2 separate regions of the Homo sapiens genome follow, and region 1 is linked to region 2. A link means that fine-mapping ties the variant in region 2 to the plasma level of a protein whose gene starts in the linked region. Region 2 holds a variant in brackets. A gene starts in the other region. All regions are shown on their reverse strands.

Region 1 (16,664 bases), not on the chromosome of region 2:
GCATGCTACCATGCCCAGCTAATTTTTTGTATTTTTAGTAGAGACAGGATTTCGCTATGTTGGCCAGGCTGCTCTGGAACTCCTGGCCTCAAGTGATCCAGCTTCCTTGGCCTCCCAAAGTGCTGGGATTACAGGCATGAGCCACTGCACCTGGCCTTGACCACCTAATTTCTTTAATTCTTTGTCGAGATGGGGTCTCACTGTGTTGCCCAGGCTGGTCTCAAACTCCTGGTGTCAGGTGATCCTCCTGCCTCAGCCTCCCAAAGTTCTGAGATTACAGGTGCAAGACACTGTGTCCATACCATGGACACTTATAAAAAATCTTTTTCGGCCAGGTGCGGTGGCTCATGCCTGTAAGCCCAGCATTTAGGGAGGCCGAGGCAGGCAGATCACTTGAGGTAGGAGTTCGAGATCAGCCCAACCAGCATGGTAAAACCCCGTCACCACTAAAAACACAAAAATTAGCCGGGCGTGGTGGTGGGAACCTCTAATACCAGCTACTTGGAAGGCGAGGCAGGAGAATTGCTTGAACCCGGGAGGTGGAGGTTGCAGTGAGCTAAGATTGTGCCACTGTACTCCAGCTTAGGCGACAGAGCGAGACTCTGTCTCAAAAAAGAAAAAAAAAATTCTATTCTGTGCCTGGCCTCTCTCCCCTGACAATCGGTGTCGGCAGCATGGTGCATGTCTTGGTCTCCAGGCTGTGGGGACCTTCACTCTCCCATCTGCATTCTTGTTCTCTATAGAACCTGTTTGTTCCTATGTCTCTGCACCTTGCTTTGCTCAGGACCAAAGACTTTTATTGGTTTGTTAGTGGTTTCCAACCAGGACCGTTTTGCAATGTCTTGAGACATTTTTGATGGTTGCAATTGGAGAGGGTGCTGGCATCCAGTGGGTCCGGCCAGGGATGGTGCTGAACACCCTACAGTGCCCATGACAGCCCCCCACAAAGAGGGATCTGGCCCAAATGTCAACTGTGCCAAGGCGGAGAAGCCCGGCCCCTAAAGAAGATGGCTAATGAAATCCATGTTGAAATGCCCTTCAGCACGTCCACCATAGAACACGATGAGCCGCTCATGCTGCCTGTGTATCTTGTCTCAAGCACAGTGGGTCCCAGTCACTCTATTTTTTTTTTTTGAGATTGAGTCTTGCTCTGTTGACCAGGCTGGAGTGCAGTGGCAGGATCTTGGCTCACTGCAACCTCTGCCTCCCTGGTTCAAGTGAATTCCGGCTAATTTTTATATTTTTAGTAAAGATGGGGTGTCACCATGTTGGCCAGGCTGGTCTCAAACTCCTGACCTCAAGTGATCTGCCCACCTCGGCCTCCCAAAGTGTTAGGATTACAGGCGTGAGCCACCACGCCCAGCCATCACTCTTGACTCACCTTCTTGTCATCTTCAGGATGTCCTGTGGTGAACAGCCCCACCAGTGGATGTTGGGGACGGACACGTGGGCTGGGTGCCCATTGTGACCAAGAGTCTGAGACCCGGCTGGATGGGGAGGCACAGATGGGCTGCCTGCCCATCCAGCCGGGCCTCAGACTCTTGACAGCCACGTGTCACCTGACTGAAGTGTCACCTCCCAGACAGCCAGACTCAGACACGGTCCCCACCTTCCTCTACAGCTGCCGGCTCCCTGCCCCTGAGACTGCCCTGGACACTCCCCTGAGGGCCGGAGTTCCAGCCATCGGCAGGGGGTCAATTTCCCGGGTGTGTGGGGCCAACGTCCATGCTGTCTCTGGATGAGAACATCTGGCTCTCTAGGAACCTGCCAGAAAGAACGTGGGGGCTTCGGGTCCGTTCAAGCTGTCTCCACAGAGAGAACGTGACCTGCTCAGGGGAAGATGGCTCTCATCCAGACTGGGAGGGCGAGGCCACCGAGAAGAGCAGCATCCTCCCGCCAGCCCGGCGCAGCAGGGAGGGCGTCCTGCCTGGTGGCCTGAGACGGGAGCGACAGGGAGGAGGCCTTGGCACTTCCTCCGGCCCCGGACAGGATTCATCAGGTCCAGCCTGGGAGGTGTTCGCCTGGTGTGTTCAGGCGAGGGTGCACACACGCCTGACAGCTCTGCTGTGCTCTCTGCCAGGAAGGTCTCTTTGAGGGGGTGGGGGAGCAAGACGATGTTCCTCGTGGGAAGCGGTGGCCCCTGGAGCGTGGTCTGAGGGCCCTGAAATCACCCCCATACTTCACAGGGCTCCCTCGTGCTCCTGTCTGTCCTGAGAGGCTGAGAGCCTCTGCTCTTAAGCTGATCCAAGCCAGGGTCCCCCAGGCTGCATCTGGGCTGGGTGTCGCTTATGGTCCCTATGGTAGTCCACCCACCAATATCAAGATGAGAAGTGAAGGGGGCTGGTTAGGAGTGAAGCCATGGGTTGGGCGCGGTGGCTCACGCCTGTAATCCCAGCACTGTGGGAGGCCGAGGCGGGCGGATCACCTGAGCTCAGGAGTTCCAGACCAGCCTGGGCAACATGGTGAAACCCTGTCTCTACTTAAAATACAAAAATTAGCCGGGTGTGATGGTGGGCACCTGTAATCCCAGCTACTCAGGAGGCTGAGACATGAGAATTGCTTGAGCTCAGGAGGCAGAGGTTGCAGTGAGCCGAGATGGTGCCATTGCACTCCAGCGGGAGACAGAGTAAAACTCTGTCTCAAAAAAAAAGCAGTGAAGCAGTGGAGGGAGCTCCCAGCCCGGGGTCTGCCTTCCTCCTTCCTCTCTTGCCCTGGGCATGGGGCATGCGGACCCTGTCACTTCCCTTATGGGTGGCAGCCCCCTCCCCATGTTCAAGTTTGCTTGCAAGGTCAAGCCCTCTTGGCCACAAAGCACAGAGAAGGACAAGGAGAAGGAGCAGCTTGCAGAAGCTGTGTCTCTACAAAAAATACAAAAAATAGCCAGGTGTGGTGGCGCATACCTGTGGTCCCAGCTACAAAGGAGGCTGAGGTGGGAGGATCACTGGAGCCCGGGAGGCAGAGGTTGCAGTGAGCTGAGATCAAGCCACTGCACTCCAGGCTGGGTGACAGAGTGAGACCCCGGCTCTCAAACAAAGAAAAAAAAGAAAAAAGAAAGAAAAAGTGGGTTTGTGCTGCCATGAGCCAGATTCCAGTCTACTCCCTGTCTTCAGTAGGTTCCTGGTCTGAGGCCTCAGTTTCCTTGATTTTGAAGTGTGAGGACCCTAACTGGAAGAGAAGGTGGAGGGTGGTTAATGAGACAGAAGCTGGCTCAGGAGCCAAGACCCTGAGGGCCCCAAGCAGCAGGGAGATGACTGGGTCAGCAAGCTGGGGGCTGTGGGCTGCGAGGGAGGCCTGGCTGCTGGGACTGTCCTCTCCCCTCCCTGCTGTGCCCTTGGGAGAGTCATTTGGGCCCTCAGACCTCAGTCCCCTCTTCATCTGACTTTGCAGCCGCAGGTCAGCCATTCACGGCACTGCACCAGAAAGGGGTTTTGTGACTCTGGAGTCTCTGCATCTCCAGCACCTGCCCTTTCACTGGGCTCCCTGCCCCCACCCAGGCCACCCACCAGAGTCCCATCCTTCCAGGGGATGCGTCCGATCCTGCCCCTCTGCTCAGAACCCTCCAAAGGCTCCCACCTCACTCAGAACAAAATGCACATCCTCCCGGTAGCCTGGCTGCCCTCCGCCGTGTCCCCTCCCAGCCCCTGCTCCTGGCCTCCTGCCTCAGCCCTCCTTCCTCTCACTCCTCGCCACACCATGGGCTCCACCAGGTCCAGCATCGTCCAACCTTGGGGCCTTGCGTGTTTCCACCTGCTGTTCCAGGGATGTTCCTCTGTTCTGTAGACGCTGAATGTCTCACTCTTAGGACGGTGTCCAGGCTACAGCAGATACTCAAATGAGTATTTGTTGATGGATGGAGGGAGGAGGGAGAGAGAGAGAACCAAGAGAAAAGGGAGGAAAAGAAAGCTGGAAACTTCTGGTTTAGAGACCTGTTTGGAGGAGATAATGGTAGAGGGAACAGAAAAGTAGAGTACTCTCTGGTGGGGGAATTGAGGGGAGAGATTTTTTTTTTTTTTTTTGAGACAGGGTCTCACTCTGTCACCAAGGCTGGAGTGCAGTGGTGTGATCTCGGCTCACTGCAGACTCAACTTCCCCAGGCTCAAGCGATCCTCCCACCGCAGCTTCCCTGTAGCTGGGACTACAAGTGTGAGCCATCACGCCCAGCTAATTTTTTTTTTGTAGAGATGGGGTCTCAGTATGTTCCTCAGGCTGGTCTCAAACTCCTGGCCTCAAGTGATCCTCCCACCTTAGTTTCCCAAAGTGTTGGGATTACAAGCGTGAGCCACTGCACCTGGCAAGATTTCTGCTTCACTTTTCCTGGGAGCAATTCCAGCCTGTTTGTGTGCTGGTGGGGATGACTTCGGGGAGGGCAGTCCAGGATACAGGTGCGAGGCCTTGGGTTGGAAGTTCCAGTCTCACGCCCCCCAACCCTGGAGCCCAGGCCCCCCTTTCCTCCCAGGTACATCCCACATTGGCCCCACCCCCTTGGCTGTCAGCACCACAACTGCTCTAAGGTATTTATCACCCTAACATGTACCTGATCACTTATATGTAGAGCTTGTCTAAAAGACCGAGAGCCCCTATGCTACCTGTTTCTATCATGAACTGACAAATTGAAACACAAGTTCAACAGCATTTTGTTCCCCCTGTAACCAAAAAGAAGGAAAGAAAACGATGAAATGGCTGAAGGCAGCCAGCACATAACAATTTTCTGAATTAACTGTACTTTTAAACGTTAGCTTCAAACATCATTTTGTGAACGACCCAACTCTATTTCACGCTAACAAAAACCAAAAAAGTGACTTTGGATTTGTCAGGGTGCTAAAAATAACGGCATTGCTTATTTAACTTTTCTCAGAACTGTCTGTTACAAAACATACACAAACAGAAAGAAGCTGTTTTTCCATTCTTTCACTATTTTCCAAAGTTTCATACCTCAAGTCAGCACCGCACAATTTAGTGGGCAATTCTTTTTAAAAAAAAAAAAAAAAAAAACAAAAAAAAACAAGAGTCTTTCTCTGTCGCCCAGGCTGGAGTGCAGTGGCGCAATCTCGGCTCACTGCAACCTCCGCCTCTCGGGTTCAAGCGATTCTCCTGCCTCAGCCTCCTGAGTAGCTGGGACTACAGGCGCGCGCCACCACGCCCGGCTAATTTCTTGTGTTTTTAATAGAGACGGGGTTTCACCGTGTTAGCCGCCAGGCTGGTCTCGAACTCCTGACCTCGTGATTCGCCCACCTCAGCCTCCCAAAGTGCTGGGATTACAGGCATGAGCCACTGCACCCGGGCTTTTTTTTTTTTTTTTTTTCTTTTGAGATGGAGTCTCGCTCTGTCCCCCAGGCTGGAGTGCAGTGGCATGATCTCGGCTCACTGCAAGCTCCGCCTCCTGGGTTCATGCCATTCTCCTGCCTCAGCCTCCCGAGTAGCTGGGACTACAGGCGCCCACCACCAAGCCCGGCTAATTTTTTGTATTTTTAGTAGAGACGGGGTTTCACTGTCTCTACTAAATGCTAGCCAGGCTGGTCTCAAACTCCTGGCCTCAAGTGATCCTCCTGTCTCGGCCTCCCAAAGTGCTGGGATTACAGGCGCAAGCCACCGTGCCCGCCCTGATTCTTCCTGTGTCATTTTCCTGGGCTTCCCTCTCCCTAGCTGGACTGCAAACACTCTGGAATGCTGACCTGAGGGCTGGAGTGCTGACCTGAGTGCAGCAGTGTCCATGGAGCCCCACGGGGCACACACCAAATGTACAGGGTGGGTGCCCACAGCCGGGCACAGGCAGGTTCACAGCCAGGAAGCCCGCCTCACCACCCTACACATGTTCATCCCTTCATATGCCTGGGTCTTTCCTGGAACACAAAACTGTTTTGGGAAAAGTCCTTCGGCTCCCACATTTGTGGACTAAGAGAGGAAACTGTGAGCGGAACCCAGCCAATGCCTCTGCTGCGATCCTACTGGCTCCTGGGCGCCTGGGCCCACCCCCGTCTCTTGTTGGCTGGTCAAAAATATGGCCAGTTTATATAAAATCCTGTTTTGTTCACAGTAACCACACCCCCCACCCCCCAACTAAACTGGCCAGGCGCACTTAAAATTCTAAGGCCTCCATTTGAAAAAGGGATCCTGTCAGTTTCTCAATAGGCCACCCGCCCACAGAAACGGGGAGGTGGCGACAGGGAACGGCCCCTGCTCCAAAGGACACCCCTTGGCTCGCCCCGAGGCTGGGCTCGAAGGGACCCCGGGGTGGCGGGGGACGGAGCAGCGTAGCCCTCCAGAGTCGAGCTGAAGGGGAAAGGGTAGCGGGTGGGTCGCCTGGTGTCCTGGAAGAACGGGGCGCGAGTCCCCCGCGCTGAGTCAGGGACCCCGGGCGCAGAAGGCCACGCAGCGGGGACCGGGGTCGGGGGGCTGGGGGCGTCCGGGGACCCCCGCGCGGGTGCGGGTCGCGGGCGCCAGGTGGTGCGGGAAGCCCCCGACGTGCCAGGCCGGGCACAACAAAAGCGCGGGCTGGGGGGAGGCGCGGGCGGAGGGGGAGGAGGGGGCTGCTGGGAGCGCCCAGAGCCTGCATTGGCCGCCAGCCACCGGGAGGAGGAGCAGAAAATCCTCCGAGCGCAATAAAACTGCGGCCCGGCCCAAGCCCGCAGCAAACACATCCGTAGAAGGCAGCGCGGCCGCCGAGAACCGCAGCGCCGCTCGCCCGCCGCCCCCCACCCCGCCGCCCCGCCCGGCGAATTGCGCCCCGCGCCCCTCCCCTCGCGCCCCCGAGACAAAGAGGAGAGAAAGTTTGCGCGGCCGAGCGGGGCAGGTGAGGAGGGTGAGCCGCGCGGGAGGGGCCCGCCTCGGCCCCGGCTCAGCCCCCGCCCGCGCCCCCAGCCCGCCGCCGCGAGCAGCGCCCGGACCCCCCAGCGGCGGCCCCCGCCCGCCCAGCCCCCCGGCCCGCCATGGGCGCCGCGGCCCGCACCCTGCGGCTGGCGCTCGGCCTCCTGCTGCTGGCGACGCTGCTTCGCCCGGCCGACGCCTGCAGCTGCTCCCCGGTGCACCCGCAACAGGCGTTTTGCAATGCAGATGTAGGTAAGGAGCGGCGACCCCAGCCCCCGCGCGGGGCCCCACCTCCCCCGCGACCCCGAGGGTTCGCAGACGCCCCGCCCGCCCGCCGCTGGCCGAGGGACCCCAGCGCCCGCCTCCTGGTCCCTCGGCGCCTTCTCGAATCCTGCAAGTGGACGCCCAGAGCCGACTTTCTTTCCCCCCTCCCTCCTCTCCCTTTCTTTCCCTCTCTTTGCCGAGATGCGTCTCAACCTCAAAATTCCACCGAAATTCCGCCGCAGCTCCAGCCCCAGGAAAGGGAGCCAGTTTGGCTTTTGGCAGGCGGCGCGCCCTGGGATGCCAGCGCTGGGGGCGGGGAGCGTGGGGGACACGGCGTGGGGGCGGGGGGCTGGAGGACTGGGGACCCCAGGAAGAAACTTTCGCAGATAAGGTGGGAGTTGGGCTTCTCTGGGCTTGGGGCTGGGTGGGGAAGGGCTTCTCTGCTGGGGCTTCTCCCACCAGCCCCATTTGGGGGCTCCCCGATCAAGCCAGGGTGGGATGGAAGCCCGCCCTACCCGAGGCAGGTTCCACAGGCCCAGAGGGGCAGGTGAAAAAGCCGGTGGCGTCTCCTGGCGTGGCTCCTTGCTTGCGCCCTGCCCAGGAGGCCCTGCAAACTGGCTGGGCAGGGACCGGGACCCCCGAATGTTCCGCTTTTTCGGGACGTCCACAAAAGCTGGAGACTTTGGTGACCGGACCCGGCACGTGGGACTGTGCTGCTGCTCAGATTCCCCAGCAAATACCCATGACCTCCGGACTCCTAGCCCCCAAAAGACAGGCGCCATGGAGGGAGGCAGGAGGGGCCCAGTTATTTGTTCTGATCCATGGAGGGGGAGGACCAGCAGAAATGGGAGGAACCCGCTGGCTCGAAGTTTCCACCCTGGTCCTGCACCTCAAGCCTCTGCAGCCCTGGTGCTGGTCAGCATGGTTTTCCTGGGGCAAGTCTGGCTACACGGCAGGTGGTCTCGGAGCCCCCTGCCCTCCTTCCTTCTTATGTCTGAGTCTCAGTCGAGTGACCTGTCCAGGGCAGATGGAGCAAGGCGGGGGCCCCCTCACCTGCCCAGAGTGGAGGTGGGACTTTCTGTTTCTCCTGCTGTCAGCCACGCCCTTCCCATACCCCGCCCACGGCTTCTTGCCCCACCCCGGTTAGCCCTAGGAGCTGCGTGCCCAGCTGGGGAAGTTTTCAGTTGCACCAATCTATTGAGATCACAGGTCTCAGGTGGCTCAGGCCACCTGGGCGGAAGGCTTGGTGTGTGCCTGTGTCAGTTTCCACAAAACCCAGTTTGGGGGAAATGAGGTCTTTTCTCCAGTTTAGCCTTGGTGCTCAGCAAGATTTGTGGGTGAAGGAGAGGTTCCTTTGATGAGGGAGCCATAATGGGCCTTTCTCTGGGGGTCCACGAGGAGTGCAGGCCTGTCCAGGCTCCTTGGCTCACCAGCACGTGCTGGGGCAGGATGTAGCCAAGGCCCAGAAGGAGGCTGTGGATAAAAGGACCTGGGAGTTGGATTTGTAGGAGTTGGGCCTTGGGACCCCTCCCCCTCCCGCCCCCCCCCCCACCCCGCCCCACACACACACTCCTCAGCTGTGTGGGAGAATGTCCAGGCAGCCACTCTGTCCTTGCTTGGCATAAGTTAAGGCGGCCACTGAGCTGGGAGCTGTTTCTGCGTGGGGTGTGGATCCAGGATGGCAGAGGGTGGAGGGCTGCAGTGCGTGCCTCCCGCCTCCTTCATGCTCAGCGCAGCACTCTCCTCTTCTGGGTTGCCTGGCATTTGTGTCTAAATCTTTGCATCAAAATCATCCTGTAGCTAAAACTTTTCACCCCATCCCGGCTCAGAGGCCCAGTCAGATGCCAGAGTTGCACTGCAGAGCTCAGGGCATTCGCTTCCTGTGGCCGCTGTGACAAACTACCACAAATGGGAGGGCTTAAAAGAACAGGAATCGATTCTCTGTAGCTCAGGAGGCCAGAAGTCTGAAAAGGTGTCCACAGAGCCAGTTCCTTCTGGGGGCTGTGAGGGAGAATCTCTTCCAGGCCTCTCTCCTTGATGTTGCTTGGTTCCATTTTCAAGGAACACATCACTTCCATTTCCGCCTGTCTTCACATGGCCTTCTCTCGTGTGTCTCTGTGTCCAAATTTCCCTGTTCTTTTTTTTTGGAGAGCAGGCTGGAGTGCAATGGCGCAATCTCGGCTCGCTGCAGCCTCCGCCTCCTGGGTTCGAGCAATTCTCCTGCCTCAGCCTCCCAAGTAGCTGGGGTTACAGGCACCTGCCACCACACCCGGCTAATTTTTTGTATTTTTAGTAGAGACAGGAATTCGCCATGTTGGCCAGGCTGGTCTCGAACTCCTGGCCTCAGGTGATCCGCCTGCCTCAGCCTCCCAAAGTGCTGGGATTATAGGCGTGAGCCACCGCGCCCGGCCAAATTGCCCTGTTCTTCTAAGGACAGCAGCCATTGGATTTAGGGCCCACCCTAATCCAGTATGACTTCATCTTGATAGATCAACAAATACTCTATTTCCAAATAAGGTCATATTCATAGGATCTGACTAGATGTGCATTTGAGGGGGGACGTAATTCAGCCCATACACCAGGCTGCCTTCTCTTATTCCCAGTCACCCTTTCCGTGCTCAACCAACTTGGGATAAACAACCCAGGACATCCCAGGGTAGGGTCCCGGAACAAATCCCACAGGGACGACAGCGGCCTGTCTATTCTCCAGTGTTCGATTCTCCTCGAAGCGATGCAGGTTTGTGACTTTCTCAGCAATGGTTCCCCATTCTGGCTCAGAGCAGAATTGCCTGGAAGATTCTTAAAGATTGCTCAGGTCTAGGTCCCTTTGCAGATACAGAGGGTCTTGCTCAGACTTCGGCTTTTGCAGTTTTAAAAGGCCCACAGGTGATTTAACCAGGGCTGTGACCCAGGGGTCTCAGAAAGGGGGTACAGTGGAGGTTAATAAAGGCTGGCTTGTTATGTGGCAAGCTGGCTCCTTTTACTCTTGGCTGCATGCAGCCTTGTTAAATGGCTTGGTGTCTACAAGAGGCAATTGGCTTAAGAAACAGTCAGATTTCTGTCTGCCCGGCTGAGGATTTCTGGGAGGTATCTCCCTAGCAGCTCTTGCAGTTGGTAGGACCGGAACTGTGGTCGGCAAAGATAATTCATGATGAGGTGGTGATGTTTAGGATAAGGGATGGTAAGAGGTGACCTGATTTCTTCCTGGAAGGCCCCAGGTCCTTGTCCTTTCCAGCAAGGCCAGCACAAACGGGAAGCATTTTGTGTCTCAGTTACAGTACTGTTCAAATGCGCTGCTGGCCCGGCTCCCTCTCACCCAGTGAAATCCTTCACATCTACTGCCAGCCTGCACAGCTACAGGGATCTGGCTGGAAATTAGCTTTGGGCTCACCATTCAGGCAGTCCCATGCCTGGAGCCACTTAGCCAGCTGAGCTACTTGGCAGACTCGGGCTGCTTGGGCCCGTTTCTGGACTCAAGGGTAAAGCCAGGAGCTCTCTGGATGCAGAGAATAAAACCTCTCCTCTGGCTTGGGTGGCAGTACCTAAGGCCACACATTATCCTAGAAGACCTCTGCGATGACATCTTCCTCACATGTTCCCACCTCCAGAAACTGTCCTCTGCAAATCCCCCGAGGAGCTCCAGCTCCAGCTAGAGAGGGGTCCACAACCAAGAGGGGGAACAACTGCTATTTTCTGGGGTGAACAGCCAAGGGTGACCTGGTTCCTGGGGGACACAGTGACAGGGACCAGACAGATAGTAGGGGCCACCCCAGAAAACACACAGCACGCAGTCAAAAATGGCTCTGTCTTCAGGACACGTGCTCAGGAAAAGCAACACAGCATCAGATTCATGTGAGCTGGGTCAGGCCTTCCATGCGAGGGGGCGGCGTGGCGCTTTTTAAAGAAACTGTTGGCAACTCGTTGTGCGAAGTATGTGATCGATCTGTATTGTCAGTTTTGTTCATCTTGATTTTCATATTGGGCTTGTCTGTGTTTCAACAAGCAATTATGGAGTGGCTGCCTCTGCCCCCGGGGATGTAAGGGAGAAGCAAGACATTGTCCCTGTGGTGGGGGATGCAGGGGGTGGTACATCTTGGCACCAGGCGGTGTGGAAGGGGGTTCCTGCTGCCCGGCGTGGTGAGCAGGCCTCCCCTCCTCAACTGCCCAGGTGTGGTATAAAGTCAGTCCACTCAGTGTGGTTTCGGTAAATAATTAACAACAGATAAACTTTCGAAATAACCAAAATTCAGGAGTAATCATGTGACAATGTGAAATGCATTTGCAAGATGTGAGGATAGAAGGCCCCATGGTAGGTTGAGGAGGGAGCTGTGGGGAGAACTGAGGCTCTTCGGCTTGGTTTTGAACAGCGTCCTTGGAGGGACAGGATCTGTCAGGGGAGTCACTGACCCCTGAATTACTGGCAGCTCCCAAGGCAGGGGGACTGGAAGAGCAGGGAGAGCTGTGCACAGCCTGGAGGTATGGCAGGTGCTGGAAGGAGCTCTCTGGACAACACACGTTTCTCCCTATCTGGGATCTGAGGACAGTGCCAGCCTCAGAGCCTCTCGGGCCTCCCCTATTTGCACCCTTCTGGGGGTGCAGAGCCACGTACGCAGTCCTGGCCTGTCGTTTGTGAGCTGCAGGTGGGCTTGGGTACTGCCTCCCTCCTCCCTGCTGTCGCAGCCAGGTTGCTAGGTAGATGCCACTGGTGTGGGCTGAGAGGTTCAGACTCTGTGGCGACATCTGAGCACATGGAGAACAGGGCATAGATGACTCCTGGGAGACTGAGAGGCGCGGGCAGCCGTCTCCAGTCCTGATGCAGAACCACTGACTCGATGCAGTGGGGGTCGTGTGTAGGGGTGAACGTCTTGGGTTCGGAAACAACAAAGAGGTCTGCCCGAGGCTTCCCAGGCAGCTGCGAGGAGGGATGCAACAGCAGGGAGGAGGAGATAAGAAGGAAGCAAAGACAGGCAGACGTGGCAGTGGCAGGGGCAGGAGGGGTGCATGCCCTGGACACTCTCTCTGTCCCCCGGTGCACGCACAGGCTCACAAACCAGGGACGGAGGGCAAGTGGCTGCATGGCTAGGATGGTCTTCTTTTCTTTTTCTTTTTTTTCGAGATGGAGTCTCACTCTGTCTCCAGGCTGGAGTGCAGTGGCGCTATCTTGGCTCACTGCAAGCTCCGCCTCCCGGGTTCACGCCATTCTCCTGCCTCAGCCTCCCGAGTAGCTGGGACTACAGGTGCCCGCCACCATGCCCGGCTAATTTTTTTGAATTTTTATTAGAGACGGGGTTTCACCGTGTTAGCCGGGATGGTCTCGATCTCCTGACCTCGTGATCCGCCCACCTCGGCCTCCCAAAGTGTTGAGATTACAGGCTTGAGCCACCGCACCCAGCAGATGGTCTTTTTCAAGAGGGGAGGGCAGAGTGAAGAAATCAAGGTAAGGGAGGGTGAAGAAGCCGCATCTGGAGGACGGCACTGGGGACCGTAACCCCTGGTCATTTAGCGGCAGCAGGGTGGGGTGTGCACAGGTGTTCTAAGCCAAGGGACCAACTGCCCCAGGAAAGGTGAGAGTTCTGGGTACAGAGTAGGCCAAAGAGGAGCCTGGGGATTCAGGGGGACCCACAAGGAGATTGGGGCCAAATGTCACGGCTCTGGCTTGTCATGTGACATCTGCATTCCATCCCGGGACCCACGCAGCCACCAAAGATGTTCTGGCTGTGGAATGACAGCGGGCGTTGCCCAGGGAGCCTGGTAGAAGGCAGCCGCCTAACTCCGCGTGCTGGAGCGGGCCTGGGGGTGGCACTGGAGTTTCAGGACTCTCCAGGTGCTGCTGCCGCCCGCCAAAGTTGGCATAGACCAGTCGTCTCCGGAGGGGTGCCCAGTACAGCCTCGGTGCTAAGAATGTTATGAATAGTTAGCATATGGATTCAGAGTTGTACTCCAAATATAATTTTTTTTTTTTTTTTTGAGACGGAGTCTTGCTGTGTCACCCAGGCTGGAGTGCAGTGGTGCAATCACAGATCACTGCAGCTTCAATTTCCTGGCCCAAGCGATTCTCCCACCTCAGTCTCCCAAGCAGCCACCACGCCCAGCTAATTTTTTTAATTTTTTGTAGAGATGGGGTTTCGCCATGTTGCCCAGGCTGGTCTCGAACTCCTGAGCTCAAGTGATCTGCCCACCTTGGCCTCCCAAAGTGCTGGGATTACAGATGTGAGCCACGGTGCCCGGCCTATATATACTTTTTTAATGAATATCTGATATTGTGAGTGCTTGGCCAAGGTTTTGTTTTTGTTGCCCGTGGGTCTGAACAGAAAGTGTGGAGGCTGACCACCTCAGTGTCGGGGGGTGGAGTAAGCAGGCAGATGAGCTGCCCTGAGATTGCTGGGAGGAGGGAAGGCGGGCAGACCCAGACTTCCCAATGGAGAGATGGTCAGGAGCATGGATGTCTCAGAGTGGCAGGCAGGATGAAGCTGGTGTCCCCAGGACCTCCCAGGGCCCACCTGCCTGGACCCCTGCAGCCTGTGCCCTGACGCCCTGGTGCCCTCGTGCATTTGCTGGGACGTGGCTGTGCAGCGGCAGAGGGAAGGGCACAGAGACCCCGCCCCGATGATTCCCACCTTACAACTGAGGGCTGAGCTACTCCCCAGTCAGCCAGGTCAGACTGGAGCCCAGGGAAAGCTTCCGGAGCCCCAGCAAGTCAGGTTGAGAGTGTGTTTACGCTAAGAAGCAAATTGAGGAACAGTCTTTATAAAAGAGGGGTCCTAACCCAGAGTGTGTGAACACCCAGCCAGAGATAGGCCTGGCGGGTTTGGGGGTGGTCACAAGCCCGGAAACTGTAAGTGAAGTTGTGTGTGTGTGTGTGTGTGTGTGTGTGTGTGTGTTTGTGTGTGCACGCGTACGTGTTTTTTTTGTGGACAGTGGCAGCCGCCAACTTCTCAAAGGTGCCTGTGGCCCTCCAAACGTCAAGTCACTGCCATTTAAAAGGAGTCTTTTTATAGGTTTCGAGTCTTCTGTTTCTTGTGAGTATCTGCCTAGTCTCGGAGCTGAGCGATGGTAACGATCTTGCCTTTCTCTCCTCTTCCACCCTCATTCTGCACTCGGCCGCCCTGGGCAGCCAGGATCCGCTCAGACACTACCACCACGAGGGGAGTCCGAGGCAGACCTGTAACCAGCTCTGGGGAAAGGATGCCATCAGTGTCCTTTGGCCTCCTAGCTGGTCTCAGGGATGGCTCCAAAGACCTGGGAGGTTCTGTGGTTGTCTTCCATGGGGAAGACGTCCTTGGTAGACGGCAGCTGCTCTTTGATCTCAAACTCTGATCACAGCTGGACCACACATGGCCTGAGGGAACTCCAGACCTCACCAGTTAGGAAGGGCCTGGTGTCTATGTCTTAGATACCTGCTTCTTACAGAATTTATTCACTTAAGTGTTTTTATATTTTGTTTTACAATAGAATTTGGGTGCCTACCGTACACAGAAATACTATGGCAAGTGTGTCAAGGAATTATTTAGTTTTCTGAGACGGAGTTTTGCTCTGTCGCCCAGGCTGGAATGCAGTGGTGCGATCTTGGCTCACTGCAACCTCCGCCTCCCGGGTTCAAGCAATTCTCCTGCCTCAGCCTCCCGAGTAGCTGGGATTACAGGTGTGTGCTGCCATGCCCAGCTAATTTTTGTATTTTTTTTTTTTTTTTTTTTTGAGACGGAGTCTCGCTCTGTCGCCCAGGCTGGAGTGCAGTGGCGGGATCTCGGCTCACTGCAAGCTCCGCCTCCTGGGTTCACGCCATTCTCCTGCCTCAGCCTCCCAAGTAGCTGGGACTACAGGCGCCCGCCACTACGCCCGGCTAATTTTTTGTATTTTTAGTAGAGACGGGGTTTCACCCTGTCGGCCAGGCTGGTCTCAAACTCCAAAGCCATGGTGCCCATCTTCAAGGAAGTGAGCGCAGGAATGCGAAGATCATCTTGCAGGCTGCACCTCTTGCTAGAGACTCTTACCGAGGTTAGGACACTGTTGAGATTGTGGGCCCTGAGGGGTGGATCTTATCAGAGCTAAGATAAGCCCCGAGGAAAGGTCCTGGGGTGGGTATGGGGAGCCCAGGGTGGCTGTGGTAGAGAGTGTACCACAGGGGGACAGAGTCATTAGAACAAAGTATGGCCAGGCTTGAGCCCAGGTGGAGCAGCAAAGCCTGGAGGCCCGGCAGTGGGACCTGGCAGTGGGACTCCGGGGAAGGCTTTATGGCCCCTGCACTGGGGGAGAGGGGGCAGACAGGAGGGGGATGACACTGAGGAGGAAGGTGGTGTTGAGAGGCTCGCAGTTACCAGGGGAGCAGAGCTCCCACCTGCACTGGGGAAGACCCAGGAGATGGAAGGCAGGCCCTGAGCGGGGCCATGGGTCGCGGGCAGACACAGGAGATGCCTCTGGAGCTTGACCCAGTGCCTGGGAGCCAGATGCCCTCTAACCTGGTCAGGAGCTCAGGCGGGTAGAGGTCTCTGTTGAGTTCTGCTGGAATCTGGTGACCAGAAAGTCTCGGCGAGAGGGATTTGAGCTAGAACTTCAGCAGACAGTGGAAATTGTGTAACGGGGCCTTGGAGGGAACAGGAAACGGAGCATTGAGGGGGAAGGGAGCCAGCAGTAGCGAGGGGAACTGACATTCATAGCAAACAGGGTGAGCGGGGGTCAAATGCTGGCCCCAGATTGAGTCCAGCAGAGCGATCCGGGACAGGTGGCCTCTCTCTGCCCCCACTTCCACACCTCCAAAAAGGAGAGGCGAATTTCCTGCCTCCCAGGAAGCTCTCGGAGCTAGTGGGGGACACCAGCTCTTTCTGCATCAAACCCTGGCTCTCCCTGTCTTTGTGTTCTTGTTCCTCCCCACCCCGCCCTGAGGGAGGCCTGGGAGCAGCCAGGGAGGTGAATCATGACATGGTGATAATGACTATGGCAACAATAACAGCTGGCAGAGGTGCCAAGGGCTTGGAGGTATGTTCTTGCTCTTCACTAGTGTCAACCCATTTCCTTCCCTATCCTCATCCCCATTGTACAGACGATCCAACGGAGGCACAGGCCCACTAAGGAACCTGCTCAGGGTTAGCTGGCTAGGAAATAGCAGAGTAAAAGAAGAGATGGTTTTTAGGCCGGGCACGGTGGAATCATGCCTGGAATCCCAGCACTTGGGGAGGCCGAGGCATGTGGATCGCCTGAGGTCGGGAGTTCAAGACCAGCCTTGCCAACATGGTGAAACTCCATGTCTACTAAAAATAAAAAAATTAGCTGGGCGTGGTGGTGCACGCCTGTAATCCCAGCTACTCGGGAGGCTGAGGCATGAGAATCGCTTGAACCTGGGAAGCAGAGGTTGCAGTGAGCCGACATCGCACCACTGCACTCCTGCCTGGGTGACAGAGTGAGACTCTGTCTCAAAAAAAAAAAGAAGAAAAAAAGAGAGAGAGACGGCTTTTAAAAGGAGGTACATCAACAGAATGGTGCTGATTCAGACTGATACTGGCTTGGGGATGAATGGTCTAGGCTGTGGAGCTGGGCTGAAGCTCTACAGGTGACGGATGGAGCCACTGAGGAGGGAGAGGAGCTCCTGAGGCTGGCCTTGT
Region 2 (10,251 bases):
CAAACAAATATTGCTATTATTCTGTTCCTTTTTTTTTTTTCTTTTGAGACGGAACCTCACTCTGTCACCCAGGCTGGAGTGCAGTGGTGCAACCTTGGCTCACTGCAGCATGCGCCACCATGCCTGGCTAATTTTTGAATTTTTAGTAGAGACAGGGTTTCTCCATATTGGCTAGGCTGGTTTTGAACTCCTGGCCTCAAGTGATCCACCTGCCTCAGCCTCCCAAAGTGCTAAGGTTACAGGTGTGAGCCACTGCGCCCAGCCTACTCTGTTCCATTTTAGCCTGGAAGTATGTTAGGTCCCTGAATGAAAGTTCAGAACTAAACAAATTAATGGACTGTCCCTTTTCCCTGTTTTGGCTATTTCATGGTATTTACATCTTGCAGATAGCACATAAATGAGACAAGAAACTCCAGATTTAATACTCGTGTGAAGACTAAGCACTAACATGCTTTACTAGGAGATAAATTACTTTGGAAAACAACAGGGTCCAAGAGTGTGTGTGTGCGTATATATATATATTTTTGTTGTTGTCGTTCACGCCATTCTCCTGCCTTAGCCTCCTGAGTAGCTGGGACTACAGGCGCCCAGCACCACGCCCGGCTAATTTTTTGTGTTTTTAGTAGAGATGGGGTTTCACTGTGTTAGCCAGGATGGTCTTGATCTCCTGATGTCGTGATCCGCCTGCCTCGGCCTCCCAAAGTGCTAGGATTACAGGCGTGAGCCACCGCGCCCAGCTAAGAGTATATTTCTTTAAAGAGAGTTAATTCAGTGTGAAAAATTTAAACACACACACAAAATGGAGATTAAATATCACATCAGGGATGTAGGTAAGACTTCCAAAATAGAACTGCTAGATGAACAAAAATAACTCATTTATTCACTACTTTTTTTCTTTCTTTTTTTGGGGGGGGCTGTAATACTGTTGTACTATTATTAGGTACTTTCTCTATAAATTCAGATAATAAAGTGACACTCCAAAGCCCATATTCTTTCCCCAACACCACAGTGGAGGTAGAGTTCTAGTAATAAATGCTAATCAGGTTTTCAGCATTCTGCAATAAGTATAGTTCTTGAAATTTATTAAAATTTATGCCCTGTAGTTTACAGTTGGTGGTACTGCAATTCTTTTCACGGCTTTTTTTTTTTTTTTTTTTGGAGACAGGGTCTCACTCCATTGCCCAGGTTAGAGTGCAGTGCTGGGATCATACTTACTGCAGTCTTGATCTGGCTCAGGTGATTCTCCCACCTCAGCCTCCCAAATAGCTGGGACTACAGGTGCACACCACCAGGCCTGGCTAATTTTTTGTACTTTTTGTAGAGACAGGGTTTCACCACGTTGCCCAGGCTAGTCTTGAACTCCTGGGCTCAAGTAATCCTCCTACCTCAGCCTCCCAAAGTGCTGGGATTATAGACATGAGCCACTACTCCTGGCGCCCTTAAATAGTTCAGTGTCTGATAAGTAGGATAGAGTCATTCCTAGTAGGAGAGTTAAAAATACTTTTGAGGAAAAATTAAAAGCTTATATACCTTAGCTGGGCACAGTAGCTCATGCCTGTAATCCCAACACTTTGGGAGGCTGAGGTGGGAGCACTGCTTGAGCCCAGGATTTTGAGACCAGCCTGGTCAACACAGCAAGACCCTGTGTCTACAAAAAATTTAAAAATTAGCCAAGCATGGTAGCTAGCTAGTCCCAGCTACCTGGGAGGCTGAGGCAGGAGGATCGCTTGAGCCCAAGAGTTCAAGGCTGCAGTGAACTATAATCATGCCACTGCACTCCAGCCTGGGTGACAGTGAAACTCATCTCAAAAAAAGCTTGCACCCTAACAAATGAGTTCTCACTCACAGCATCCAAACTAATGTGCTCTGAAAACCTATCTTCCATTGAATACAATAATTGCTTTGGTAGTCTACCTGCCTAAAAGTCAGAAGTTGTCCAATCTTTTTTTTTTTTTTTTGAGACGGAGTTTCACTCTTGTTGCCCAGGCTGGAGTGCAATGGCGCGATCTCGGCTCACCGCAACCTCCGCCTCCCAGGTTCAAGCGATTCTCCTGCTTCAGCCTCCTGAGTAGCTGGGATTATAGGTGCCTGCCACCACACCCGGCTAATTTTTTTTTTTTTTTTTTTTTTTTTGAGACGGAGTCTCGCTTTGTCGCCCAGGCTGGCGTGCAGTGGCGCGATCTCGGCTCTCTGCAAGCTCTGCCTCCCGGGTTCACGCCATTCTCCTGCCTCAGCCTCCCGAGTAGCTGGGACCACAGGTGCCCGCCACCACGCCTGGCTAATTTTTTGTATTTTTAGTAGAGACGGGGTTTCATCGTATTAGCCAGGATAGTCTCGATCTCCTGACCTCGTGATTTGCCCACCTCAGCCTCCCAAAGTGCTGGGATTACAGGCGTAAGCCACCATGCCCAGCCATACACCCAGCTAATTTTATATTTTTAGTAGAGACGGGCTTTTTCCGTGTTGGTCAGGCTGGTCTCGAACTCCTGACTTCAGGTGATCCACCTGCCTCGGCCACCCAAAGTGCTGAAAGTACAGGTGTGAGCCACTGCACCCAGCCTTCTTTTTTCTTTTAATAGAGACGGAGTGTATGTTGCCCAGGCTGGCCTTGAACTCCTTGCCTCAAGCAATCCTCCTGCCTGAGCCTCCCAAAGTGCTTGGATTACAGGCTTGAGCCACCAACCCTGGCCATCATTTTCAAAGTCTGTTGTCCTTAAATAAATTAACATTCTAATGGAAAGAAGAAAAAGAAATGGAGAGGAAAGCTCTAGAGAAGGCCAACACAAAATTCAGTCTAATGGTTCTCTGTGGGGTGGAAGCAGGGGGATGGGCCAGGGAATGAACCCACAGCAGACACAAAAGTTAGCCAATGGTTTTATTAGTGTTTACTATTATTCTTTGTAAAAGGTATGACGTATTTTCTATATGTATCAAATACTAAACTCCTAAAACAAGGTGGGTTAGGGCAAACATGGAGTATGGCCATATAATTGAGAATCATACTATAGTTTTTATACAGCAGTCAAGTCACTAAAAATGGTTTATCAGGTTAGGTTTACCAGGAATCCTAGATGACACAACTGGGCATGAGAATACGATGAACCACCGTCCTCTCCCTGATGGCAGAGGTCATTACTGGCCTTTCACATTCAAGCCATCTCCCAGCTGTGACTCTGGGCTTGCTGCACTGTAGTGTAGGTAGTGCTTTAAGGAGATGGGAGTAGTTAGTTAATGGTTCTTTACTGAATTGGTTCTAAGATAAGTGGACTAAAATTAGAAGAAAAATCTAGAAAAAATTAGGAGACATGTTTGTGGCAGAGATCATTAACTTGAGGATACCCTATGGCCTTAAGCATCAGCTTTATTCTCATGCAATAGTTAGAAACTATTCTGAAACTTAGTCTTTAGTATGTAGATTTTTTTTTGCTTGAAACGATGTTAGATGTGGCTATGCAAGCATGGAAAGGTATCTGCTTTTTCTACCAGGCTGATCCAAACTTACACTGGGTCAGATTGCCAAATCACTCAATAGACTGAGCCTCTGATTTAGCTCAAGTCTGGGATGCTTTATACTGTGTAGGTTCACTTTCTCATGGAAGGAGCAACTGTTTCTAGCAGCTGAATCGAACAGCAACATCTTCATCCTAGAGTAGTGTGAAACCTGTTGCCCACAGTCCTCATGAAGATCCAGCCCTTGCAGTTTAGGGGAGCCAAGCAAGGGAGGAGCATATTTCTGTTCACAAGAACACTAGCATGAGAAATGCGTAGTCAATCAAGAATTTCCACCACCCTAGCAAAAAGTTTATAGTCTAGTAGCTGGCAGAAATACAACCTGCATAATTATCCTGGTTTAAATGATCTGGCAATAGAGAATGTGTCCATAATTTAATTTGAATTCTGCAAAAAAGTAAATAAGGTTATAATTAGTTGCCTAAAAACAAAGATTGCCGAAAACAATTCGGGCTTCACTGAAAAGCATCCTGATTGATCCTTGAATTGTTTAAGAAATATTTCATGGACTAGATTCATCGAGTGAGTGTTTTAGGAGGAAATAATTTTCCCACAAGTGCTGTCCAGCAGTGACTTGGGAAGTACTCAAGCAGAGACAGAACTATAAAAATTCTTTGCAAAAACAGTTATTGGAATATTGTGCAGCTGATAAAGGACAAGCTGTGTCAGAACAAGAGATCTGAAAAGTATATTTTAAAAGGCACTGAAACCAATAGTAAAAATTCATATTGACTTTATTGACTGCTGAAGTTCAGTCTCATTCATCTTCCAGCCTTCTCTGATACTGTCTTTCTGAGGCTTTTCTACGGTAGACATCATCTGTATCAAACAAAAAGTTGCTCAGATGTTTAAGAAACATATTTAAAATTAAAACAATCTGAATAATTTAACCAATAGTCTAGGTCTGTCACCTACTTCTGAATCTTGGCATTAATATTTAACTCAATGCCAAAATAAACTTAAAACAAAACTTGAGTTAGATGAGGACTATGATAATGGAGTTCTAGACTTAAATAGGGTAAAAGTCAGTGTCTTGAAAGATAGAATCATGTCTTAGCACATCTCTTAGTGTTTTAAGATGTCCCTCACTTCCTTCTCCCCCATAATTTCTATTCTGTGCTCTGAAGTCATCCTTCTTAACTAAAACCTGGCTCCTCAAAGGCACTTCTTGCCTCTTGGCTCTCTGATGCTCCCTCTCCCATATCCAGAAACCTTCAGGTGGGGAGAGGAGATCAGTTTCCTTGTTCCAGCTGCTGCTTTGCCAGACCTTTGACTCGCCACCTTCATGTAAAGAATCTTCTTTCCAGGCCGGGCACAGTGGCTCACGCCTGTAATCCCAGCACTTTGGGAGGCCGAGGCAGGCGGATCACAAGGTCAGGAGTTTGAGACCAGCCTGGCCAGTATGGTGAAACCCCGTCACTACTAAAAATACAAAAATTAACCGGGTGTGGTGGCAGGCACCTGTAGTCCCAGCTACTCAGGAGGCTTAGGCAGGAGAGTCGCTTGAACCCAGGAGGCAGAGGCTGCAGTGAGCCAAGATCGTGCCACCACACTCCAGCCTGGGTGACAGACCAAGACTCTGTCTCAAAAAAAAAAAAAAAAAATCTTCTTCCTTCATGGCTCATGCCATTTGTCTGCCACCATCTTTCTTTGGCACCTGCTCTCCATCATGCCCCTTCAGTCACCAAAAGTGCTGGCCTCTGGCTCAGGTTCCTTGACCCTGTCCTGTGCCTTCTCCCCAGATACCACCATTACCCATGGGGATGAAGCTCCAGTACCCTTCACCTTCAACATCTTCCAGTCACTTGCAGGGCTCCTCTGAAGGATTTCTGTTCATACCACAACCCCCGTTACCTTTCCAGCCCTCCTGTCCTTGGACCTCACGTTTCTTCCCCAGGTCCTTGGCCCCGTCTTACCCGCTCAGCCGCTTCTTGTTCTCTCTCCTGGCAAATCAGCTAAAATTCCTTCATACTCTTGTCAATATCTTAACTTCCTGACACACCCTCAAAACCCCAACCACAGATTAATCCAACTTCCTCCCTTCCCCATGCTTCACCCTGCTTGCTGTGTCCTGAGGGGCCAACTGATGCCTCTAACTGGGTCCACTGAGGTGTCTGACAATCCTGTTTCCTCAGCCATCATCCTGACTCTTTTTCACCCACCCCCAAATGGCCATTTCCTCTCTTCCTTCACAGAGGAAAGTCATCATAAGGAACTCTTCCAGCTAACTTCCAAGGGCTTACTCCTGTCACCCAGCTCTGGTCCCACCCTCTCAAGGGTCCAGTATCTCCAGCCTCTCTCCACCCTCTCCTTCTAGATCATTATTTGCATATCCTGCAGTCTCTCCTAGAGGAAGGGGGGTTACCTCCCCTTCACAGAGCCAGATGTATTTAACCTCCTGTCTTCTGTGATAACAAATCCTCCTGGTTTCCCTCCTTGCCTTTCTGGCCATTCTCAGTTACCCTTAAAATGTTGGGATTTGGGCCAGGCGCAGTGGCTCACGCCTGTAATCCCAGCACTTTGGGAGGCCAAGGTGGGCAGATCACCTGAGGTCAGGAGTTCTAGACCAGCCTGACCAACATGGAGACACCCCATGTCTACTAAAAATACAAAATTAGCCGGGCGTGGTGGTGCATGCCTGTAATCCCAGCTACTCCAGAGGCTGAGGCAGGAGAATCACTTGAACTTGGGAGGCAGAGGTTGCGGTGAGCCAAGATCGCACCACTGCACTCCAGCCTGGGCAACAAGAGCGAAACTCAGTCTCAAAAAATAAATAAATTAAATTAAAATGTTGGGATTTGACTTCCATCATAATTTGCTTCTGAATGGTTCACAAATCCCAATTTCTGGCCCAGATTTGCCTCCTGAGCTTCAGCTCTGTATAACCATATCTACCTCGTCACGTCCCAGATGGTGCCCAGGATGGCCCTGCCTGTGTTCGGCACCTTCAGGAAATGCACTACCCCCTGCCCCAGGTGTCCCACCAGAAGCCTCCACTCCTCATCTCCTGAGTCCACTTAATCACCATGCCCTGTCAGTACTACCTCTGGGCTGTCTTTTACTTCCATCCCTTCTTGGTATCCTTTCTGCCCCAACCTAGACCAGGCCACTGTCTCAACTCTGGACAGCCATACAGCGTAACTGTTCCTACCAATCTGTCCACAAGGAGCCATTCTCCACATGTTAAAGCCTCTCCCTAAAATGACTCAATCCTTGGGATCCATTCTTGGTTCTCCAGTCCCTTTGCCACCCTGCCCAGGCACCCTTCTAGCCATCCCCACTTTGTTGATCTGCTTCAATCCCTCAAACACACAGCATACTCTCACACAAGTGCTCCTACCACTGCCATGGAGATGCTTTCAATTCCACACACCTTCCCCTCATCTGACTGACACCTACTCAGTCTTCAGGTCCTACTTTACTTGGTAGCTGCTTCCGGAAGCCTTCCCTGCACCATCTAGTCCAGTTGAGGCGCCCACCCGAGAGTCCTATGTTCCTCCCACTTCCTTCTCACAGCACTGATCACTTTGTATGCTAATTGTCTTTATCATCTTCTTTCCCATTAGAGCTCTTCTGGGGTAAGGGACACCTCTGCCTTGTTCATTATAGCCCCTCAAGAATGCTCATTAAGTATCAATGAATGGATGAACAGAAGGACTAAGGATCTTTAGGAATCACTAATGTAACAATTCTTTAAAATGTGGGTTGGCAAGTCACAAGTGATAGCGTTTCAGGAGAGGGGCAAAGCAGAAAGGGCCGAGGGGTTGGGGAAGTCCTCCTGAAAGGAACTGGCCTGTCCAGAGTTAATGCTCAGTAATGCAGTGCCAGGCGTTACCACTATCTTTACAGTGCTGATCATCTGGACCCAGACCAAAGACCTGGTGCCAATGACTGTCCTGTAAAGGTAGTGGTAATTAGCAAAGCCAGGCAGATCAGCTCCCTCCAGAGTTTGGACAGAAGAATCCAAAGAGAAATGGCTAGTTAGCAGGAGTTTCCCTGACCCCTCATATCCACCCCCTTCTACGATTGTTGTGAGCAAGTCTGTTCCTTAAGCCCAAACGATGTCACCGGCAGGGGTGAAGGGCAGGCATGAGAGGGCTGGAAGAAGCACGTGATCTCGCCTGTAAGTGCAGGGAAGGTCACAAGGCTGGACGCCAATGTGCCCGGCCTACAGGAGAGCCAGGCCGCCCTGACTGCCAAGCGAATGGAACTGCACTCGCCCAGCGCTCTGAGTGGAATGCGCGGTCTGCAATCTGAGAATACTCCCCAGAAAAACGGATCCCTACCGCCTCGTGCCTTCCTGAAAGGAAACAGAGACTGCTACCCCCTCACTTACAGAAGGTCTCCTGGCCCACGCGCACTTTAATCATGATCCACTCCATCGTTCCTCCCAGGACAAAAAAGAAGGGCAGGAACCGGTAGATGCCAAATCGCTGCTTCCCGGGCACCCGCTGCAGAATCCGTCTCACCTGGGCCCTGGTGAACATGCTCGACCGAGGTCGTGGAGAGGGATATGACGGAACTAAGCACTGGATCGCCCGGACGCAGCCGAGACCGCCCCGCCCGTTCTCGCCGTGTACCGCGACCTGGGAGACTAGCGAGCGCCGTCCTCCGCCACTGTCTGGTAGGCGCACGAGTGCCGGAACTGGGCGCCGACCTTCTAAAGCGAGGCGGATCCGCCAATCAGACTGCAGCGGGGGCGTGCAGCTCCGCCAATCAGAGCACGGCAGGGCGCGCGTGCTCCCTGAAGCCGAGCAGGGCCTCGAAGGAGCTGGCGCAGGCGCCTCAGCTCTGGAGGTGGGACGGCCCAAAAGGGAAGGACAGCCCACGTGGCGCCGGCCCGGCCCCGCCCCCTGCCTCCCCAGTGCAGGTCTGAGCTCGCAGTTGGCAGCCGCGCCCCCTACTCTGCCACCGCCATTTTTATTCCT[A/C]ATACCCAGATAGAAGTGATGACCCTCTCTGATGGACTATGTACAGCACCACATTCCAAAATGCAATTATGCAATGCCTTGCGTTTATTTCGGAGACGTGATTGGTGCCTAGACTTCTAAAGTAACAGAATTTGATATGGAGTGTTGAAAGCTGAACTTTATCAATTATCACAGCAAAAATCTAAGTAAGCGCCCCGTGAGAACCCTAAAATTAATAAAAGCTATCTTGTATGGGGCACTTACAGTTCCACAGGCACTTGTAGGCGCTTTATTCACAATAATCGCAGAAGAGCAGTATAAAGAGCATGCACTCTGTTACCAAACCACATCCCTGCTCTACAGGTGCTCCCTTAGCCCATCTGTGCCTCAATTCCCTAAGCCGTAAAACGGAGGCCTTGTTCTGACGCTGTGATAATTTAGTGCGGTAATAGGAATGATGCACTGAACACAACCCTGGAGCATAGTAACTGATTAATATTAGTTAGAATATTCATTATGATGATAATGATTGGCAGAGCCCTCGCTCTTCACATGTATTCCCAAACATGGTTTTTGTTTGTTTCTTGAGACAGGACCTCGCTCTGTCATCCAGGCTGAAGTGCAGTGGCGCAATCTCGGCTCACTGCAACCCCCTCCTCCCCGGCTCAAGCCATCCTCCCACCACTACAGGCGTGCACCACCACGCCCGGCTAATTTTTTAATTTTTTGTAGAGATGGGGGTCCCACTATATTGGCCAGGCTAGTCTCAAACTCCTGGGCTCAAGAGATCCTCCTGCCTTGGCCTCCCAAAGTGCTGTGATTACAGGCGTGAGCCACCGCGCCGAGTCTGAACGTGTATTGTTTATATGTAGTCTCTTAACTGACAGTTTAAGAGACTATGCCAGGTAGAAGCAGGGCTCTGACTTAAGAGACTTCACTTGTAATTGCGTCTTCTCATGCTGCTGTGCTTGCTGAAGATAACTGAAAGGGGCTGTCACCCCATTACCTAGGACTAAAGTAAAAACTGCAGGAACAGCTTTGAGAAAGGAGACAACTATTAGACAATCTAAGGAAGGTAAATGAAAGCTTAGAACCAATGAGACGATTTGGTGATATGGACACAAAATATACAAAAGCAGACTGGAGAGAGCAAGCAGGGCCCCAGAAAGGGTCATAGGGCCCGCAGTGAGCAGCCTGAGCTGCCGCCTGTACAACCGGCTTTGGAGGGCCAGCCCGGAAGCCTCTTTCTCCTCCGGGTAGACTCCGCCCAAGCATGCACACACACAGGCTTGATGCTCGCTCCCGTTTCTACAGGAGGTTTTGACGGCTGGATGCTGCAGGGCATCCCCTCGCCTGGAGGAGGTTCACTTGTGGCCAGGTTCCCAGCACACCCACTTGCTCACTGGGGCCCTGGGGACACCGCCACACTCGAGCCCATCCTACGGCCTCAATCCTTACCAGTCCCCAGGCCATGGACTGCCACACTGTAGGTCTTCAATCAAGGTTCAGTGGAGTTTCGAATGTACACACACCCTGAAAGACAGCGCGGCCACCTCAGAAAACAACGCGCGCCCAGCTGGCTCCCCTCCGACAGGGCCCACGGCTACTGGGTCGGCCTCCTCCGGACCCTGAGCACAGCCTGGTATGCGTGCGGGCTCGGAATACGGATCTGAGCAGAAGAAATGCGAGTGGAGAGCGGTTCTGCGCAGGAAAGAGGAATTTTGTTGGAAAGCCTGTCGACGTTGCTAGAAAAGACCACAGCATCTCACGAGGGGCGTGCGCCGGGAAACCGGGAGTTGACGGGTCAGTGCGGCCAGTTGCCGAGGTCCGAACC

Which allele goes with the higher level. Alleles are on the strand shown, and positions count from the first base shown. The strength of an association depends on the size of the effect and on how common the allele is.
In carriers of allele A in region 2, the plasma level of the protein whose gene starts at base 6,628 in region 1 tends to be lower than with C alone (weak association).

Evidence for each region. A credible set is the group of variants that fine-mapping cannot tell apart. PIP is the chance, under the fine-mapping model, that this variant and not a neighbour inherited with it causes the effect. The UK Biobank Pharma Proteomics Project read protein levels with antibody pairs (Olink). The fine-mapping took linkage between variants from a reference panel, not from the people measured, so its PIPs are less certain.
Region 1: TIMP2 starts here. The variant in region 2 is the best candidate, but not a certain one, in a credible set for the plasma level of the TIMP2 protein (UK Biobank, PIP 0.61).

The regions. Positions count from the first base shown.
Region 1 is chr17:78,915,351-78,932,014 of GRCh38, reverse strand. TIMP2 (TIMP metallopeptidase inhibitor 2) reads left to right here and starts at 6,628. Exons shown (of 5, transcript NM_003255.5): 1 at 6,628-7,056. The coding sequence starts at 6,927. RefSeq lists enhancers at 8,399-8,468, 12,337-13,312, 14,763-15,458, 15,459-16,154.
Region 2 is chr3:52,534,502-52,544,752 of GRCh38, reverse strand. UQCC5 (ubiquinol-cytochrome c reductase complex assembly factor 5) reads right to left here and starts at 8,148. Exons shown (of 2, transcript NM_001124767.2): 1 at 7,847-8,148; 2 at 2,863-4,329. The coding sequence starts at 7,997. The coding sequence ends at 4,268. It also overlaps a transcript of NT5DC2 not described here. RefSeq lists an enhancer at 7,296-7,829 and a silencer at 8,163-8,462. The variant A/C (reference allele first, on the strand shown) is at 8,439.